2 separate regions of the Homo sapiens genome follow, and region 2 is linked to region 1. A link means that fine-mapping ties the variant in region 1 to the expression of a gene that starts in the linked region. Tissue or cell type: prefrontal cortex. Region 1 holds a variant in brackets; the other region holds the start of a gene. All regions are shown on one strand. Distances are from middle to middle.

What was found. PIP is the estimated chance that this variant, and not a neighbour inherited with it, causes the effect.
Region 2: it holds the start of FAM234B, and the variant in region 1 is fine-mapped to the expression of FAM234B in prefrontal cortex (BrainSeq, PIP 0.92).

Annotation. Positions count from the first base shown.
Region 1 is chr12:13,072,306-13,082,344 of GRCh38, forward strand. It overlaps FAM234B (family with sequence similarity 234 member B), which reads left to right. Exons shown (of 13, transcript NM_020853.2): 11 at 3,721-3,838; 12 at 7,484-7,704; 13 at 8,320-10,039. The coding sequence ends at 8,325. Among named protein-coding and RNA genes, the nearest start is that of GSG1, 26 kb to the right of the region's middle. The variant G/T (reference allele first, on the strand shown) is at 5,799.
Region 2 is chr12:13,038,443-13,049,850 of GRCh38, forward strand. FAM234B (family with sequence similarity 234 member B) reads left to right here and starts at 5,939. Exons shown (of 13, transcript NM_020853.2): 1 at 5,939-5,998. The coding sequence starts at 5,962.

The sequences.
Region 1 (10,039 bases):
TCTAGATTGTATTTCTAACTCTGACATGGCCTAACAGTGTGACCGTGGGCAATTTACCTAACATTTCAACTTCCTCCCCACCTATGAGGGGACTTCAGAAAGTTCATGGAAAAATGTAATTAAAATATAAAAATAAAAAATATCGGCTGGGCGCAGTGGCTCATGCCTGTAATCCCAGCACTTTGGGAGGCCGAGGCAGGAGAATCACAAGGTCAGGAGTTCGATACCAGCCTGGCCAATGTAGTGAAACCTCGTCTCTACTAAAAATACAAAAAATAGCCAGGTGTGATGGTGGGCACCTGTAATTCCAGCTATCTGGGAGGCTGAGGCAGGAGAATCGCTTGAACCCGGGAGGCAGAGGTTGCAGTGAGCCGAGATCATGCAATTGCACTCCAGCCCAGGCGACAGTGCGAGACTTTGTCTCAAAAAAAAAAAAAAAAAAGAACTTTATTTCTTAACATAAGCTCCATCAAGTTCAAGACACTTTGTAAGCACTGATACCAGCCGTTTAGTCCATCCCTAAAGAACTGAGGGTCCTGGGCGTTTCATCATGTCAATGCAGTCTTTTTTTACATTATAAACTGAAAAAAATGAGAGCCCTTTAAAGATTTCTTAAGATTAGGAAACTAAAGAAAGTCACAAGGAGCTAACTCAGAACCATAAGGTGGATGCCTCATGATTTCCCATTGAAACTCACAAAATTGCTCGTTTGATGAGAGGAATGAGTAGGAACATTGTTGTGATGGAGAAGAACTCTCTGGTGAAGCTTTCCCAGGTGTTTTTCTGCTAAAGCTTTGGCTTTCTCAAACACTCTCATTTTAAGCAGATGTTATCATTCTTTTTTTGTCTTTTTTTTTTTTTTCCTTTTTGTGGAGAATGGGGTCTTGCTGTATTGCCCAGGCAGGCCTCGAACTCCTGGGCTCAAGCTGTCATCCTGCCTCTGCTTCCCTAAGAGCTGGGATTACAGGCATGAGCCACCGCACCCAGCCAATGTTATCATTCTTTAGCCTTAACGTCAACATAATGTGCATTTCTTCTGCTGTAGAGAGTTTGAAGACTGACACTCAGGCCTTGGAACTTTTGTTTTATAATTGATGATTTGCCTCTGTCTGGTCAACAAGCAAAATGCCTTGGGCATCCCTCCAAAATACTGTCATGACTTTTGCTGTTGACCTTTCCACTTTTTCTTGGACTGGACCACTTCCACCTCTTGTAGTCATTGCTTTCATTGTGCTTTGCCTTCAGGAGCACACTGGTAAAGCCATGTTTCATCTCCTGCTACAGATCTTCAAAGAAATGCTTCCAGGATCTTGATCCCACTTGTTTAAAATTTCCATTGAAAGTCCTGCTGTTGTCTGCAGCTAATATGGGCCAACAGTTTTGCCACCCATCCCGTGGAAAGTTCGCTCAACTTTAATTTTTCAACCAGAATTACGTAAACTGAACCAATTGAGGTGTCTTCAGTGGTGGCTATTGTTTGTGCTGTTAATCATTGGTTCTCTTCAGTTAGGGCATGAACAAGATTAATTTTTTCCTCACAAATTGTTGAGGATGGTCTGCCATTGTGGGTTTAATCTCCGACATCATTTTGTCCCTCGTGAAAATGAGCTATCCGCGTCTAAGCTGCTGATCTCTCTGGGGCATTGTCATCACAAATTCTTCAGAAAGCATCAATGATTTCACCATTCTTCCACCCAAAATTCACCACAAATTTGATGCATGTTCTTGCTTCACCTTTTTGGCAGAATTTGTGTTACTTTGATAGGGGCTGTTTTCAAACTGATATCTTACCCTTCTTGGTGCCTCAGACTAGCTCCTGTTCAGGCATGTTATAACAAGTTAGTATGAGTTTCCTCTGGTGCAAAAAAAATTTTGAAGTCCTTGCATAGTTTTTTCATAATCTGCATTTCCATGAACTTTTTGAAGACCCCTCCTATAATAAAATGAGGGTATTGGGCAAGATAAGTCTCAAGTGTAGTCTTCTATAAATAACTACAAAAAGAAAAGAGCCATGTTACAAATGCTTTAATAGAGGTACAAGTAAGAAGTTTACATGGAAGCACAAAAGAAGGGAGATGTTAATTTTGCCTAGGGTAATAAGGGAGCTTTTCCTCAAAGAGGGGGCCAAGGTGGGCACCTAAGGACGAGAAGTGTAGAGATGGGGTAGAGAGGATAGTTAGACAGTCTAAGAGGCAAATAAGATTGGCAACGGTTAGGCAGAGTAAGGTGAAGCATGGATTGAGGGTGATGATCAGACATTTGTGCAGCATGGGGTGGGCAGGTGAGTCATAGCAGCTCAGTCTGGAAAAGGCATATTTTGGTTAAATGGTATAAGACTGCTAAGGAATTTGTGCTTCATTCTGTAGGCAGTGAGGAAGGTGTATGGCTGTTTTCTTCTCATGTTAGCTGAGCTGGAGATCTGTCCTTTCATACCTGGGATCCTAAGGGTGTGTGGAAGATGCCCTCTTCTGCTTTGTGGGGATGTGTTGAGAGTGAGGTTGCAAGCTTCCTGCTCACACTTCTCCTCACTTGGGGACTTCTTCCCATGCAGCGATATGGAAGCAGGGGTAATATTCATCCCTCAGAGCTTCCATTTCCTCTACTGCAGGAGGCCCAAGGTAGTCCCAGGGGAGGAGAGGCACTTGGGAAGCTCTGGAGAGCAGCCACTTACTAACTCACATGGGTGTACTTCTGTGCCTTAACAACTGCATGGCTGCACACTCATGTACCTGCCAAGTCTCAAGTCCCATCCCCACATAGAAGTCATACTGATAAAGATAGTCCCAATGTGCATTTCTTCTGCTGTAGAGAGTTTGAAGACTGACACTCAGGCCTTGGAACTTTTGTTTTATAATTGATGATTTGCCTCTGTCTGGTCAACATTCCACTCATTTCAGGAACAGATAAGATTTTTGTAATTTTTAGCCTGATGCTTGCAGTTGGCTTTGACACCCAGTGAAAGGAAATATCTTTGGCTCACTGTGTTTTCATGAATAGATTACATCTCCACAAAGCCCCATCTGCTGCAAGGGATGAACCAGTATTCCAGTACTTCCATGGGCAGAAGACTGGGACATCTTGTCAGATTCCTCTCTTGGGACCTGTACATTGCCTTTTCTTTTCTTTTCTTTTTTTTTTTTTTTATTTTTTGAGACAGAGTCTCTCTCTGTCACCCAGGCTGGAGTGCAGTGGCATGATCTTGGCTCACTGCAACCTGTGCCTCCCAGGTTCAAGTGATTCTCCTGCCTCAGCCTCCTGAGTAGCTGGGGCTACAGGCATACCACCAAGCCCAGCTTTTTTTTCTCTTTTTTTTTTTTTTTTTGTATTTTCGGTAGGGACAGGGTTTCTCCATGTTGGCCAGGCTGGTCTCGAACTCCTGACCTCAGGTCATCTGCCCACCTCGGCCTCCTAAAGTGCTGGGATTACAGGCATGAGCCACCGCACCAGGCCTGCCTTCCTTTTTTTTCTTACAAGGGAGAAAGCATTTTCCAGCTGTAGATAGTGGTTTGAAAGAGTTAGTGATTACTATTTTGAGCTCTTTGAAATATGTCTCTTATACAGGGGAGTTTCTTTCAAACACATTCTTGTAGTTAGGATCAGGCATTAGCATCTGAGAGGAATGAGTAATCACCATTTTCTACTCTGCCTTTTCACCTGAGGACTGTCACGTGTGGGAATGTAGCGTTACCTTTGCTCTTCCTTTTTGCTGCTTATTATCAGGATATCATCCTAGGAACTGAGCCGCCCAGCCTTCACCACCTTTACCTCCTGCATCCTGCGTTCCCCTCCATCCTTCTGGATCTGGCCAACACCACCGGCACAGTGACGGCTTCAGAGGGTGAGTCCCAGTGCCAGCGGGAGTCTGTGTACGCAGATGGTGGGAGAGTATGTGTTGGCTGTGTGTAATGAGACCATTGCCCCACCCAGGGAAGGATGTGTGCTTCTCAGACGACAGCAGGGCACTTTCCCTGGTGTCCCTGGTGCCTCTTTGCTGGAATGCTCCCCTGGGTGGAAGCCCCGGGCTCACAGGGTGAGAACCCATATGCTCTGAATGTGGAGGTGAAAGCGCGTCCCATTCCAAAGGGTCTGTAAGGTGATGATTCATCCAGCCACTCCTTCAGCAGACATTTAATGAGCATCATCTGTATGCCAGACACTGTGCCAGGTGCTGGGACTACAAATAAGACTAGTTTCTTGACCCACTCAGAGATTAGGATTTGGAATTAACTGTGAAGGACATGATGGAGATAGAATGTGTTTTGCCAGGGCATTGATTTAGAAAACCTTTTTTTGAATATAACTGTGCACCCTGCATAGAAATTGGAGAAAGAAGAAAAATCAAAGGAAGAAAGAAAAATTGGCCATAATCTGGCCACTCATAACCACTATTAGCATTTTGGAAGTGTTCTTCTACTTTACATATCTGTCTAAATAACACTGTAAATAAAATGGGATCCTATATGGGAGACCCTCAACTCAGGAAACCAAAGCATTGGGATTGCAGCCTCTGCTGCCTGCTAGTCTAGGTTGTCTGGTGATCTCCTCAGCGATTCCTTCCCTCATGGAATCTGCTGTTCCTGTTGGGAGGTCAGGGAGTGCAGGAGTGGGAGAGGACCAGATGACCACATCTCCTTTCTTTCTTTCCACATTCTCTTGCTACTTATGGACTTGGCTGTCTACTTACAAACTCATTGGCCTTGGGCTGCAGCTGGTGTTTGTAGCTCTCTCGATTTATTGGGATACACGGGGAAGAACAGCTTACCTGGAACTTGCAGGCACACCTGTCCACTGATTGGGGGGTGGGGGCAGGGAGGTATGAGCTTGGAAAATCCTGTGATTAGATCTGAGTGAGCTGTTTTTTCAACAGTAGCATAAAATATTCAGTGAACATCAAATAATGGTAATTAAGAATCTTGACACCATTTTTATTACAACTTGTATTTTATTTTATTTATTCATTTTTTAAATTTTATTATTATTATACTTTAAGGTTTAGGGTACATGTGCACAATGTGCAGGTTAGTTACATATGTATACATGTGCCATGCTGGTGTGCTGCACCCATTAACTCGTCATCTAGCATTAGGTATATCTCCTAATGCTATCCCTCCCCCCTCCCCCCCACCCCACAACAGTCCCCAGAGTGTGATGTTCCCCTTCTTGTGTCCATGTGTTCTCATTGTTCTATTCCCACCTATGAGTGAGAACATGCGGTGTTTGGTTTTTTGTCCTTGCGATAGTTTACTGAGAATGATGATTTCTAATTTCATCCATGTCCCTACAAAGGACATGAACTCATCATTTTTTATGGCTGCATAGTATTCCATGGTGTATATGTGCCACATTTTCTTAATCCAGTCTATCATTGTTGGACATTTGGGTTGGTTCCAAGTCTTTGCTATTGTGAATAGTGCCGCAATAAATATACGTGTGCATGTGTCTTTATGGCAGCATGATTTATAGTCTTTTGGGTATATACCCAGTAATGGGATGGCTGGGTCAAATGGTATTTCTAGTTCTAGATCCCTGAGGAATCGCCACACTGACTTCCACAATGGTTGAACTAGTTTACAGTCCCAACAGTGTAAAAGTATTCCTATTTCTCCACATCCTCTCCAGCACCTGTTGTTTCCTGACTTTTTAATGATTGCCATTCTAACTGGTGTGAGATGGTATCTCATTGTGGTTTTGATTTGCATTTCTCTGATGGCCAGTGATGGTGAGCATTTTTTCATGTGTTTTTTGGCTGCATAAATGTCTTCTTTTGAGAAGTGTCTGTTCATGTCCTTCGCCCACTT[G/T]TTGATGGGGTTGTTTGTTTTTTTCTTGTAAATTTGTTGGAGTTCACTGTAGATTCTGGATATTAGCCCTTTGTCAGATGAGTAGGTTGCGAAAATTTTCTCCCATTTTGTAGGTTGCCTGTTCACTCTGATGGTAGTTTCTTTTGCTGTGCAGAAGCTCTTTAGTTTAATTAGATCCCGTTTGTCAATTTTGTCTTTTGTTGCCATTGCTTTTGGTGTTTTAGACATGAAGTCCTTGCCCATGCCTATGTCCTGAATGGTAATGCCTAGGTTTCTTTCTAGGGTTTTTATGGTTTTAGGTCTAACGTTTAAGTCCACAGCCAATATCCTACTGAATGGGCAAAAACTGGAAGCATTCCCTTTGAAAACTGGCATAAGACAGGGATGCCCTCTCTCACCACTCCTATTCAACATAGTGTTGGAAGTTCTGGCTAGGGCAGTTAGGCAAGAGAAGGAAATAAAGGGTATTCAATTAGGAAAAGAGGAAGTCAAATTGTCCATGTTTGCAGATGACATGATTGCATATCTAGAAAACCCCATTGTCTCAGCCCAAAATCTCCTTAAGCTGATAAGCAACTTCAGCAAAGTCTCAGGATACAAAATCAATGTACAAAAATCACAGGCATTCTTATACACCAATAACAGACAAACAGAGAGCCATATCATGAGTGAACTCCCATTCACAATTGCTTCAAAGAGAATAAAAGACCTAGGAATCCAACTTACAAGGGACATGAAGGACCTCTTCAAGGAGAACTACAAACCACTGCTCAAGGAAATAAAAGAGGATACAAACAAATGGAAGAACATTCCATGCTCATGGGTAGGAAGAATCAATATCGTGAAAATGGCCATACTGCCCAAGGTAATTTACAGATTCAATGCCATCCCCATCAAGCTACCAATGACTTTCTTCACAGAATTGGAAAAAACTACTTTAAAGTTCATATGGAACCAAAAAAGAGCCCGTATCACCAAGTCAATCCTAAGCCAAAAGAACAAAGCTGGAGGCATCACGCTACCTGACTTCAAACTATACTACAAGGCTACAGTAACCAAAACAGCATGGTATTGGTACCAAAACAGAGATATAGATCAATGGAACAGAACAGAGCCCTCAGAAATAACGCTGCATACCTACAACTATCTGATCTTTGACAAACCTGAGAAAAACAAGCAATGGAGAAAGGATTCCCTATTTAATAAATGGTGCTGGGAAAACTGGCTAGCCATATGTAGAAAGCTGAAACTGGATCCCTTCCTTACACCTTATACAACTTGTATTTTAAAGATAAGGCAAAATAAACACTGGCAAGGTAAATCGCCTCTGTGACTGCGCACTGACAGTCTGGGAATTCTCAGGCTCCCTAGTGTTTCGGGCTTGCTTTTCTACTGAATTCTTGCCACAAGGGGCACATTCTCTCAGTTCCTGAGTTGGGCTTTTTTGGAAATAGCTTCAGAGGAGTAAAGGTGCAAAGACCAGGAAGAATGTGCTGCTTTACTGGCGTCCAGTCCTTCCCCTCTTTGCACCCGTGGGCTAGCTCACTGCCTTCTGTTTATTCAGTGCTCAGTACATTTCCTGTATGAACTTATGAGTAAATAAATGTATTGTTGAACCAAACCCCTCTCCTGTTAGTGGACGGTATGTGTCCATGTTAACTGCTCTTGTTTTTGTCCTTCCTCAGTTGGAATTAACGACCTCTGGAAAGATGCCTTTTATGTTACCAGGACAACAGGGCCAAGCTCCGAAGGCCATCCAGCAGCCCTGGTGGTCAGCAAGCTTAGTCTACGGTGGGCACTAATGGAGGGCCAGATGGCTCAGCTACAGGAGTCCACCCCCAAAATTGGCCGTGGGGAGCTGCGAAGATTTCTCTCTAGGATAAAGTTTGTTGAAGCTCCCTACGAGGTGAGTGGCTGCAGAAATATTGTTCCTCTTGAGGGTTTAGGACAAATACTACCAATTCCAGCTTTGTCTTTAGAAAGTAGGCAGAATGGGGAACTTTCTTGAGTAGATGTGTATCAAGACAGTTGTTTTGGACCAACACTGTTTCCTATGGATGCCTTCTGACCATGAAGAAATGATTCTCAATTGTTTTCAGCTGGAAATAATAGCATCTTCCTTAGGGGACATTTGACAATGTGGGGTCGTGGTTTTTATTGTCCCAATGACTGACAGGGGTGGCTACGACTGGTATTTTCTGGGTTGGGGCTAGTGATGCTAACATCATGCAGGGCTTGTAGCAGTTACATACTACAAAGAATCATCTTGCTCAAAATGCTAATGTTCCCTCCCCATCCCCACTCCCAAGAAATATTATAGTCTAGTGCAAAGTTCAAAAGCTTATCATGGAAAATAACAAAGTTTCTGGGCCTTTCTGGAAGGAGGAAATGTTTACAGACTATTGGAGCTAAAGAAAAGGACGGGAAAATAGAGAAATATTCTGACCTTTAGTTTTCCTGCTTTTCTTTGAACATCTCTACCATGAAAAACAATAAAGTCACGATAACTCTTTTTCCATAGATCTAATCTGATGGAATCTTCAGTTGCAGAAGAAGTGAACAGAGTGGATACCCTCTCTACTCTCCTGTCACTGTAAAATCAGTTCTATGGAGAGAAGACTTCTTCGTCCTCATTTACCACCTCCCTGATGGTTGCAAAGGCTTGGGAAGGCATGTTGGAGTCTTTGACGGCAGCATGATCTATTTGGCTGGGGCATCTTACCTACCTTTTCAGTCCCTGCATTAATCCCCTCTAGGAACTCTGCGTGGATCGTTTGGAAATGTGAATCTCTTAAGTATTTAATTTTTTTGGTATGTCTAATTTATGAAGTCTTGCTGGGAAAGCCAGTGAAGTCTATGACTAGGAAACATTTTGTTGTACATTGTGCTGTGTGTGTGTATATTTTAGTGTTGTGGTGAAGTTATTTTCCAGGTATGTCCTAAGCTTCAGGGATCCAGTTTCTTGTCCTTCTGAAATATATCTGGTTTGTTTGGTCATTTTGAGACTTCCAGATGCCCTACCTCTGATGTTGAGGGCCACTTATTTCTCTCCTTATTCTTTCCCACCTGTACCTTGGCTACTTCCAAATTGTAGACAGAATGAGAAAGATTTATAGTGGAAGACTGAGTTAGCCATCCAAGCATTTTCATCTCTCTTGTTTTATATCCTATTTCCTTAGATTTTCCATCCATGTCTATTAAGTGACCACAAGAATAACTATATTCCTATCACAAGGGGAGCAAGAGGATGTAGTCTCAGTGACCCATCTCTGACCAAGTCCACATGTTGTGTTATATGTGGCTCTGATGGTTCTGCCAGTCATGATCTTTTTTCTGTGGCGACATCAGAAGTGTATGTTTGCATGCTGTCTTCAACTTAGAGGAGAACTGGAAGTCAGGAGCCTTTGATGTCCTTATCCTGCTGTATGTCTTCTCTGCATCTTTTTCTATAGGGCACCCTCCTTAGCTCCCCTCACTCTGTTTTCTCTTCTATTCAGGGATATGTTTCTGGACTTTTTCTTCTGCTACTTGAGTCCAGGATGCAACCATTTTGTCCTGCATCTCTTCTTTCCTGTAGAGCCTTTGAAGCATTGTATTTTGGGAAAATTCTTCTGTAAATACTATAACTTTTATAAATGGTTAAGTTATTTAGAATTATCTCCAGTGCTTACTTCTCCCTTCTTCTGTATAAATCTGCTACTTCAATTAAGTTCTCCTCTAAACTTTTAGGTCATTGTTTATATAGCAGAAAATTCAATGTTAGCGGATGGAAAACTGCTTCTTGAATAACCTTGATAGGTCATCCCTGAGTGCACCTCAGGTTCTCTCTTTACCTGGGCTTGTATCTTTTTTTTTTTTTTTTTTTTTTTTTTGAGACAGAGTTTTGCTCTTGTCGCCCAGGCTGGAGTGCAGTGGCACAATCTCGGCTCACTGCAACCTTCGCCTCCTGGGTTCAAGCGATTCTCCAGCCTTAGCCTCCCAAGTAGCTGGGACTACAGGTGCCCGCTACCATGCCTGGCTAATTTTTTTTTTTGTATTTTTAGTAGAGACGGGGTTTCACCATGTTGGCCAGGCTGGTCACGAACTCCTGACCTCAGATAATCCACCTGCTTCTGCCTCCCAAAGTGCTGGGATTACAGGCGTGAGCCACCATGCCCGGCTGGGCTTGTATCTTTTAGCTTGTGTTAGTAAAAGGATTCTAGAAAATTATGAAGTCCAGATTCAAAGGGATCTCTGTTAAT
Region 2 (11,408 bases), 33 kb before region 1:
ACTGACTTTTAGAGGATTACTTAGGACTTAACCAGTGAGCTAGACATGCAGAACTGAGAAGTCTCAACAGGGATGTAATCTAAATATGAAAAACACTACAGAACAAGACCTTGTCTCAAAAAAAAAAAAATCTTGGTTATATAAAAAAAAAAAAAAGGAAAGAAAAACACAGTACTGCATAGGTCCTGACTAACCAGAACATGTCTGACTAATCAGCTAGCACTCCCAACAAATGAGAACAAATGTTGGCCAAATATCAGCTACATTCAGCACTAAAATCTGTCATGAATCAAGTACTTTTATAAAAGAGTTTATAGTTTGGTTACAATGCCATAAGTGAGGCAGGGATTACAAATAGTTTTCAATTTTTGAGCTGAATCCAATTGATAGGTAGTGGCTCCCTGGACAGCGGAGTGAGGGATTCTGAAGCTATGTCTGGGCCCACTGTCAGAGTGTGGTGAGTGACATGTGCCCTGGAAGAAGAAAAGACAAATTGGAGCACACATGCCATGTATCTGACGTCACTGCTTGTGATTAAAAGACAGAAAAACCTGCATTCAAATCCTTCTTCAAGTCCTTGGGAATTGTGTCACTTTGGGCAAATGGCTTTATCCATCTCAGTTTACCTTCCATGGAAAGGTTCTGCCCATAGGATGGAGGTGAGACTATAGCCTCCTGTTGAAGCTAACGGCCGCAGAAGGCAGGAAATAAGGGAGGAGGAGAAAGCCTGAGAGTGGAACTGACCCAAGAGGTCTTAGTGGTGGGGAAGATGAAGTGATGCGGCCAACAGCAGAGACCTGGGAGAAGAGATGCATCTAACAGAGCTTTTTGGGGGGGCGGCGGGGGGGGGGAAATGCTATGTGCCTTGACCCCTTTCCCTGGCCCCTTGAATCTTCAGGAAAACTCCCCAAGTCACAATATGCTTGGCCCATTGCATTTTCTTTTGGAAGGCAGTGAAGGGGCTGATCAAGACTGGCAAGACTCCAAAACACTGTCTTCTTTTATAGGTGATGAGTGCTCAGCGAATGGGGGCTGTTACCATCTACACTGCTACTACAGGTCCTTCGGTTGACATGAACATGCCAGAATGAGGGATGGGAGGACCAAGAGCTCATTTGGCCTGGGTGTGTCTGTCCTTAATTACACTGTTCTCAAACATATGTTCCAGCCAGAGGCTTGTTAAGAAGAAGCCTTTGTTTAAATTTCAGGGCCCACAGAGCATTTTATAGTCTAGACTCTAGAAAGTTTTATAGGCTAAAAGTCTGTATGATCTGAGTGAGATGAGCCCTTGTGTTTTATCAAAGGACATTCTGGGAACATAAACCTGTTTGTCTTCATGACAAGCCATGCAACTCCTGGGCAGAGTTCAGTTCTCTGTGAAGAGAAGTGAATATGCCACTGGTACACATGCGTTTCAAACTTCCTGATCCTCACGCAAGACTGATTTCACAGGCTCCTTGACATCTGCATTTAACTCCTAAATGTCCTCTGCTGTGCACCTCTTTCGCTTTTCTCAATCTCACTGCCCTCACTGCTATTTGCTATGACATTTTCTTTTTGCTTTTCGAATCTCATACTAATTACTGCTTCCTGACCCTTTTTGGCACCAGTGTAGCAGAGGGTACTACCCTCAGCTTCAGATAAGTCAGTGGAGTTCAGATTTGTCCATCCTCTGCTGATAGATGTAGGAATGGCTTCCAGAAATCTCTCTGCAGAGGGAGTGAGGGGAGCCTCCTGGGAGAGCTTCAGCTTAGACCCATAAGTCATTACAAGAAACTCAGCTCAGGAACAAAGCCTTAGTCCCTACAGGAGAAAGGCAATCCTAAGGAGAGCGGCGCCTGAACCCTTTCCTACCATCAAGAACTCAAGAACTCAGGTCTGTAATTTACAAAGGCATGGGGTGACCAGTGTCGCAGACACTGGCTAGATGCTCCCCAAACTTGTCTCCTTTTCTTCCTGGGCTCATACCTTCCTGGCACACATACTCTCTGTCTGAATTCTAGCCTAATAAATGTGGGCAGAATTCACATACACCAGCTCCAGGCCTGGCCCATAACACTTCCTGCATGATCTGGGATGCAAACGATCCAGTGGAGGCCTCCGAGGCCCTAAGGATGAAGCAGCTGGAGACAGAAGGGCCTGGGTCCCTGAATGGCTGGGAGGAATAGAGCCCCAGTGCAGTCTACTTGCACCCCCACCTTGACTCTGACATAGGCAGAAATAAATTTTTACACTCTAAAATCATTGGAATCTTGAGGTTGTTTGTTACAGCAATTATCTTGCTCTGGTTGACCTGCTAAGTAAAAATAGAAGCTCTGTCTAATGAAAATACTGCATTCAACCTGAAGGAGTAGCAGCATAGCATTGGCAATTTCCTAATAAAGTGTAATATGAAAAGGAGAGAAAGGCAGTCTTCCCTGGTTTCCTTTGCCCCTCACAGCTTTGACATTTTAGGAGCACTAAAATATGAGGTGGCATTTAGTGAGAGATACAGGAAGAGGCAGCAGTTTTTGAGAGGAGGCAGTTTTTGAGGGGCCTGGCAGCGCAGTGGAACCAAGGAGGAAGGGAGGCGGCCGCTGGTAGATACAGTGGCATTGGTTCCAAGAAGAGGTGGTGAAACCTAGTGGGGATAGTCAGGACCAGCAGAAGTGGCCACACTGTCCAGGGAAAGGCAAGCATTAGATGGTCAGATTTGATCATAAGCCCATGCAGGACACTTAGAGATTCTGAGCAGTACTTGGAGTATTACAAAGGTAATAACCAGCAATATGGGTTCCCTCTATGAGTTATGGGAACTTGAGAAGGTTGGGGAAGAACACTCTCACTGTAGATCAATGTAGGAAAAATAGAAGGTGATTTTCTGACTTCAGTTGTGATTTTTCAGAAAAGTAATTTCTTCAAGCAGGCACAGCCACCAGGCAGGTTAGGCTGTTCATAGGCATCCCGCCCCGGTCACTCTTGTACTTGTCAGGAAGGCAAGCCAAGTTCAGAAGTCAGAGAGGGCCTGGGTGTTTGCATTTTCCACAGTGACCTCAGTGGGTGTTTGGACAACAAAGGTATTCACATTCCACTAGGTAGCTAGAAAGGAACTCACAGGTATTCTCCATGTAAAAGGTAAGGATCCTGATTCATTTGGCAGCTGCTTTGAATTTTTTTCTTTAATTGAAAAGAAAGTACATTAAATTTGAGAAATACTATTCTAAGCTGCAGTTCCTATGTTAAAATGGAAAAAAGTTGTGGAGGGATGAAAGAGATTTCTAGAGGGACAAGGAAGACAAAGTGGAGGAAAGCTCAGGAAGCCAAGGAAGGAGGAATTCCTGGGCATCGGCCTCCCTGCAAAAATCATTCGGGCAAAGCTGGGGTGATTATGGGGAGTGTGCAGATGCCTTAAAGGTCAAGCATTGAAATCTGAGGAGCCGGAGATGCTGCATCTATTGGATGTATGTACACTGACACATGTTTATATGTACACATGTAAGTGTGTACATGCACATGGGCACTTTGGGTAACTACACAGTTTGAAGCAAAGTTTTTTTTTGTTTTGTTTTGTTTTTGAGACAGGGGTCTCATACTGTTGCCCAGGTTGGAGTACAGTGGTTCAATCACAGTTCACTGCAGCTTCCAACTCCTCAACTCCAGTAATCCTCCCACCTCAGCCTCTCAAAGTGCTGGGATTGCAGGCACAAGCCACTGTGCCTGGTTCTGAGACAAAGTTTTTAAATAAAACTTTATACATCTTTATTTTATTTATATCACAGAAGAAGGTACTCTCCCGGAATATACCTTTTCACTAAGAAAAGGAGACAGATTTTTCTTCTTTCTTCCTATCCTGTGTGACCTGGCTATTCCTTTCCACCCAAACTTTCTCCTAGAAACTCAAGTTCTTGTTCTGCAACTAAAATGAACATTTTTCTACATCCCTGTCACATTCACAGGTTATTTTTCTCAGTCTTCATATTTCAGGAATGCGTTCCATTTAGTTAAACTGATATCAGGCAAGCTACTACTGGCTCATTGTGACTTGTAGTGTTGCTCCTTTTAGATGACCTACATAGATGTAAAATATGTTTTTTAATCATGCCTCCAGAGAAGTGGCAAGCAGTAGAAATTTTGGGTATTGTAGAATGTTGAAAGAATTAATAAATAAATACATTACTAAACCATTAAATTACTATGAAATGTATTATTTGTTATTAAGTTACAAATTTTAAATTGTTAAAACATTAAGAAATTATCGATAAAAGAAGAGTGAATACTTAGAAAACACTAAGTGCCAGGCACTGTTGTAAGTGCTTTCTACATATATATTTAATTCTCAGGAGAACTCTATAAACTAGGAACTGTTTTGTCCCCATTTTGCAGATGAGAAAATTGAGGTGGGGAGAAATTAAGCAACTAACCCTCTGCCTGGCATCTAGGAAATGATAGAGTCAGGATTTGATCTCGGGAGGCCTGGCTCCTGGCTCCAGAGCCTGTGCTCTATCAGAGACAATGACATTTTTTTTTTCCAAGGGAAGAAAGGAGGTGAGACTGATTGCTGGAGACTCTCAGATTACTCCCACAGGATAGTCCTGTCTGCAGTTTCTCACGGGAATTAGGCAGCCTGCAAATGAGATGTATCTTGGAGCTTTTGTTGTGACACTCAGAAGTTACATTACCTTTCTATTTCTCAGCTTTCTCTTAAACAAAACAAGGAGAGTGGGACTAGATAGCCTCTAGGATCTGTTCCAGTTCTAAGATAACACAGTATTAGCATTCCTGCACTAAAATGCTGATCACTTGCGTGTGGGAAAGAAGCAAGTCAGTTCTTCCTTCTACACCACTGTGCCTGGTCCTGAGGCAAGCCAAGTTCAGAAGTCAGAGAGGGCCTGGGTGTTTGCATTTTCCACAGTGACCTCAGTGGGTGTTTGGGCAGCAAAAGTATTCACATTCCACTCAGTAGCTAGAGAGGAACACACAGGTATTCTCTATGTAAAAGGTAAGGATCCTGATTCATTTGGCAGCTGCTTTGAATTTTTTTCTTTAATTGAAAAGAAAGTACATTAAATTTGAGAAATACTATTCTAAGCTGCAGTTCCTATGTTAAAATGGAAAAAAGTTATGGAGGGATGAAGGAGATTTCCAGAGGGACAAGGAAGACAAAGTGGGGGAAAGCTCAGGGAGCCAAGGAAGGAGGAATTCCTGGGCATCGGGCTCTCCGCAAAAATCATTCAGGCAAAGCTGGGGTGATTACGGGGAGCGTGCAGATGCCTTAAAGGTCAAGCATTGAAATCTGAGGAGCTGGAGATGCTGCATCTATTGGATGTATGTACACAGTCGGATCCTCCTTCTACACCCTTCAACTAGAAGCTGCAGCGTAGGGTGCTGAGTAGACACCTGTAAAGAACTGGGAGCAATAAATGAGGGTTCGAGCTCCAGGAAACTTCAACTTCTACCTAAGAAGCGTAATAGAAACACTCTTACTAGGTGCCTACTGTGTGCTGTGTGTTTTAAACAGGTCGTATCATTTAATTCTCATTGCAAGCTTGTGAAGTAGGTAGTATGTCTTTAATTAAAAAAAAGCAGCGGCAGCTCAGTCGCCCCAAGGGACTTGCCCAAGATGGCCCAGCTAGTAAGTGATTCAGGCAGGATTCAAATCCAGTCTGCCTGATTTCAAAGCCCACGCACATTGCACAATCCACACCTCCTTAAATATCTCCTTCGAATCATTTTCACTGCAAGCTTACGGGGTATTTTCTCCCCATTTCACTGACGAGGCAAGTGAGACTCAGAGTGGTGAGGTGACCTGCATAGGTAGGGTGGGAGAAAAGCCTGCGGAGCGTGTACTCTGGCTTGGCCTCCCTCAGCTCTGTCCCCAGCAAGCGGGTCCCACCTTTCCCGGTCCCAGCCCCACGCACCGCCGCTCGGAACTACACTTCCCGGCAGAACGCGGGCGCGCGCACGCGCACCGGGGCCTCAGCCATGGCGACCGTGCTGTCCAGGGCGCTCAAGCTGCCGGGTAAGGAGTCGCATGCTTGCGACCACCCAGTCCCCGCCGGTGTTGGAATAAGGGGAGGCGAGGCTCTGGGGGCGAGGCCGGTCGGGCCCTGGCCTCAACCCAGACTCAGCTGCAGGCGCCCGGTGCCGAGGAGGGTGCAGTCCCTTGGGGCTGGGGTCTCTGTGCCACCAGAGGGCGAGAGGGGCGCCCAGCGGGGCAGGGGTCTCGGGCGCGGGGCGAACCCGGAGACGCGCGGGGAGAGGGCGCCGAGCAGGTGTTACGGCGGGGAATGTCAGAACGCCGGTCGCCGCTGTCCCGAGGGGAGGCTGGCGAGAGGAGCATCCTTCCCGAGCGCCGCGGACCCAGCACCGCAGGGACTCCGGCGCCTTCTGTCTTGGCTGGACCTGGGCGGGGGCGGCGGGACGGCGAGTGGCCCTCTGTGGATCATCCCCTCCACCTAACGGCAGCAACGACGCATCCATGAGGCAGGTGGGACAGGTATTTACGTCCCTTCCTAGTTTACAGAAGAGAAAATGAGAGTTATTTGGCTAAGTGAATTGTCCAAGGTCTCACAAGTATTGGGAAAGCTCGGCCTTGAACGTCAGGGGTCTTTTCACTCTAAATCCTGAGCTTTTGATTCCACTTGGTCAGTCTCCAGCTGCCGAGATTAAGCATGGGAAATGATTTGGCACCTATAAGTTGAAGATAATGTATGGAATCTTCTTTAAGGCAGCATTAGGGGTGATGACAACTTCCAGAGCTGATTCAGTACTTCGGGCAGCAGCTCCAAGTTTTTTTTCCTTTTTTTTTTTTTTTCCTCCTAAACCTCCAGAGTAGGATTGTACTGTTAGAAAGTTGATATTTAAATAAAAGTATATTTATTCCACCCAAGTAAATTTTAAACATTAGGCTTTAGAAAAATTGATGGCTCTACCTAGGTAAGTTTTAAGCATTAAGCTATAAACATTTATTTGCTGATAATTTGTATTAGAGGGAAAAGCAGTTGCTTTCATAGCTATCTCTAGAGAGGGCTATTTGGGTTTTGGTTGGATAGCTAGTTTGAGCTTGCAGGGGGATTACAGGGTCCTTGTTCTCAAGGAGCTTCCAGTATGCTACCCTGAAGCGAACCTTGCCATTTGGATGACGCTAGGTTGGATATTAATTTGCGTTTCTGTCCCCAGACTTCATGACCTCAGACAGATTATTATTTTTTTTAATATGGGCTCATTGGAACATTGGAAGGAACACTGATAGCATCTGCCTTGGAATGTGTGCATAACACTGGAATTAAAGGAGAGACGTGGCCCTTTACCTGCAGGATTAATTTTTTACTTTTTTACTTTGTATATCCTTAGTGTAGAATGATGTCCTCCCAGAGGGGTAATAAGATGTCAGACATTTAGCTTTATTTCTTTTTTTTTTTTCTTTTAGAGTCCTTTTTTAAAATTTCAGTGTAGGTCATTGTTATTCTCTAAGAATGAGAATGCATGAAAATCTTGCTTTAGCAACTCTTGAGGTCTTTTGTGTTCTTATGCCCCAAGGCTGTGGTGTTATTACTCCCTGGAGTATTAGTTGTAGGAACTGGTTGGGGTTCCCATAGTCCAGTCCATGGGCCTGTTTGGCAGGCAGCTTGGCCCTGAGCCCTGAGGTATGCTTGATGCTTTTTTAGGCCCAGATATAGTAGGCATGTGTTCTTTCATGTGATGTGGGTTTTAAGAAAATGTTCACTTGCGTCTACGGCCATACCACCCTGAACGCGCCCGATCTCGTCTGATCTCGGAAGCTAAGCAGGGTCGGGCCTGGTTAGTACTTGGATGGGAGAAAATGTTCACTTGCGTTTTTCCTTGTCTCCTTCTTGCCCTTTCTTCTTCCCTCCACCCAAAATACTATTTTTAGTTTTTGCATTAGGTACAAGTTGTTTTTATATAGCTCTTTTTGGCTCCCCTGTAATTGGGGTCCTGAGACTGCTGTCCTGTTTGGGCTACTGTGTTATGTTCCTGTAGTTAACATCCCCACTGTTTTCTTTGTTTGTTTTTTTGTTTGTTTGTTTGTTTTTTTGAGACGGAGTTTTGCTCTTCTTGCCCAGGCTGGAGTGCAATTGTGTGATCTCGGCTCACCGCAACCTCCGCCTCCTGGGTTCAAGCAATTCTCCTGCCTCAACCTCCCGAGTAGCTGGGATTACAGGCATGCACCACAATGCCCAGCTAATTTTGTATTTTTAGTAGAGACAGGGTTTCTCCATGTTGGTCAGGCTGGTCTGGAACTCCCGACCTCAGGTGATCGCCTGCCTTGGCCTCCCAAAGTGCTGGGATTACAGGCATGAGCCACTGCGTCTGGCCCCAACATCCCCACTGTTTTCATGTGTGAGGAAGTCAGGTTGGAGTGGTGGCTGAGAGCATGAGACAGGCTCGGGTTCAAATCCAGTCTTTACCTAATTAGTTACTTAATCTCTTTAAGCTTTAGTTTCCTCATCTGTAACAATAACATTATTATGGAACATTCACTCTATGCCACACATTCTACTACATATTTACCTCCTAGGGTTATCTGAAATAGTAAAGGAGATGGATGTACTTAGGAGGTCTAGTAACCTCTGACATATGTTAATTAGTCAGTAAGTGTTAGCTGTTGTCATCAGCAGTGTGCTCATTTATGAATGTGATACCTGAAGGAAGGCTTGATGTAATAGTGAGCTATTGACAGATCTCAGCAGTCTTGTTATGAAAGAGCAGTTTCGCTAAGCTCAAGAAGGAAAGATGTTTGGCTCACATGCATAAAATGAGGTTAATTAGTAGCAGAAGGCCAATATGACATTCATAAAGCCTGTAGGGCAGCTTATCTCCTAAGTATATATATATTTTTTTTCTTAGGCCATTTTAAAGTTTGAAGGTCAAACACTGGAGGGAATATCAGAGCAAAATGATTTTTTATGATTTATTTTGTTTGTGTAACTTAGTCTTTATATGCCCTTGGGTAAACTAACCCATGATATGAATTATTTACCTTTAGTTGCAGTAGAGTGTATTGTATAGTATATGCACAGTATAGTGTATACTATAGTATAGTATATGTTATAGAATAGTGTATGTTTTAGTATATTTCCTGAAAACGTTTGGGTATGGTATAGTTGCATCACTTTCCTATTTGTGTTTTCCTCTCTACCATTTTGGAAATCCTATTATATTTAAGCAGCATCTTCAGTCTTCCTAAGAGGAAAAGCAATAGCTGTGGAAAGCGCATTTATAATGATTTGTTATGAAATCAGTGCCCTCTCCCTTATTCTTTGAAAACCTTTCATTCATTAAAAATTTGGGTGGTGGCTGAAAGTAGCAAGGAAGCGAGTGAGTGCTAAGTGCCCTAAGCTTGGAAGCTGGATTTGACGCCTGGCTCCTCAGCCTGAGTAGGACTTAAGGCAAGTTGGTGGACTTCTTTTAAGGCAAGTTGGTGGACTTCTTTTAAGGCAAGTTGGTGGACGTCTTTTACTTCACGCTCTCTTATTGTCTTTCTGTAAATAGATAGAAAAAATATTATTAAAGACTTCTCTAATCAAAACTTGCAGTCTGTAATCCTTAAGCGGAGGTTTGTTTTTGCAGTATCTGAAAAAAAAATTAGTATAAAAGTATTTATTCCTCTCAAAAGGCTGGCCAAGAACTGGCCCCTAGTCTTCTGTGATGTAAAGAAAGCATAGGAATATGATAACTCAGAGCGCTTGTGTGCTTGTCTTTATATTTCGGTGATGTCATGGCTGGGTCAGAATGCTTGGACATCAAATTGCATGTTCTTTCTCTGAGGACTTTTTAGATATTGCTCCGCTATCTTTTAATAGTGTATGTTACTATGGAGAAATCTTTGCCTGATTTTTGTTCCTGTCATTAGTGACTTGATTCTTTTTCCTTTGGCCTGGCTGCTTATAGGATTCCTTCTTTGTCCTTGAAGTCCTGTGCCTTTACTAGGATATATTTCAGTATTGATTCTTCTGAATCAGTTTTTCTTGGGACTCTGTGTACTCATTATTCTGCAGTTTTAGGTCTTTATTGTAGGAAGTTTTTTTTGGCAACTCTTTAAAATACTGCTTTTGGTTCTTTTCTGTTTTCTGTTATCCTCTTTTCTGTTATCCTCTTTTCTGTTATCCTCTTCGGTCATGCATATATTGGCTCACCTTTGTTGTCAGTATCTATCACGTTGTTTCTAGTCTTTTTAAAGCCTTGATTTTTTTTCCACGGGATCATATGTAGCCCGTACAGACTTTGAAGCCAGACTGGTTTTGAATTGTTACCTATCACTTGCTGTTTATCTGTGGGCCAATGTATTAGTCTGTTTTCACACTGCTGATAAAGACATACTTGAGACGAGGCAATTTATAAAAGAAAGAGGTTTAATGGTCTTACAGTTCTGTGTGCCTAGGGAGGCCTCACAATCATGGTGGAAGGTAAAAGGCACATCTTACATGGTGGCGGCAAGAGAGAATGAGAACCAAGCGAAACAGGGTTCCCCTTGTAAAACCATCAGATCTCGTGAGACTTATTCACTACCATGAGAACAGTACGGAAGAAACTGCCCCCATGATTCAGTTATCTCCCACTGGGTCCCTCCCACAACACATGGGAATTATGGAAGTACAATTCAAGTTGAGATTTGGGTGGGGACACAGAGCCAAACCACATCCGCTAATTACTTAAACTTCCAAGCCTCAGCTTCCTCATCTTGAAAGTGAAGACAGTAATGTGTCTACCTCACATAGTTGTTATGAAGATTTACTGAGATAAGAATTTTTTTTTGAGACAAAGTCTTGTTCTGTCGCCCAGGCTGGAGTGCAGTGGCATGGTCTCGACTCACTCTAACCTCCGCCTCCCAGGTTCAAGCAATTTTAATGCCTCAGCCTCCTGAGTAGCTGGGGTTACAGGCGCCTGCCACCACACGTGGCAAATTTTTGTATTTTCAGTAGAGACGGGGTCTCGCCACGTTGGCCGGGCTGGTCTTGAAGTCCTGACCTCAAGTGATCTGCTCGCCTTGGCCTCCCAAAGTGCTGGGATTACAGGCGTGAGCCAGCACCCCTGGTCTGAGATAAGACATTAAAAGGGCTTGGAAGAGTGTAGGATAAGTGTTCAGAACTGCCAGCTGTAGTTATTTCCATTACATTTTGCTTGATTTTCACTAGTCTATTCTTTTTATGTCTCTGACTCTGTTTTCAGCAATATCTGTTCCTTTAGCTGATTCCAATAAGGATTTCTTTTCTAAAACTGGTTTGTTATTTTTTCCATTGTTTTCCTGAGTGCTTATTTCAGAGAAGACGATTTTCCTAAATTTCTCAGACTCCATGGGGAAGTATATGTTCATTATTTCTTCCATCTTGTGGTGTGATTTGTCCAGCATTTGTTTTTCAGCTAATTGTTTGTTATGTTTCGTTGTTACTTCTTTCTTGAATATTTGT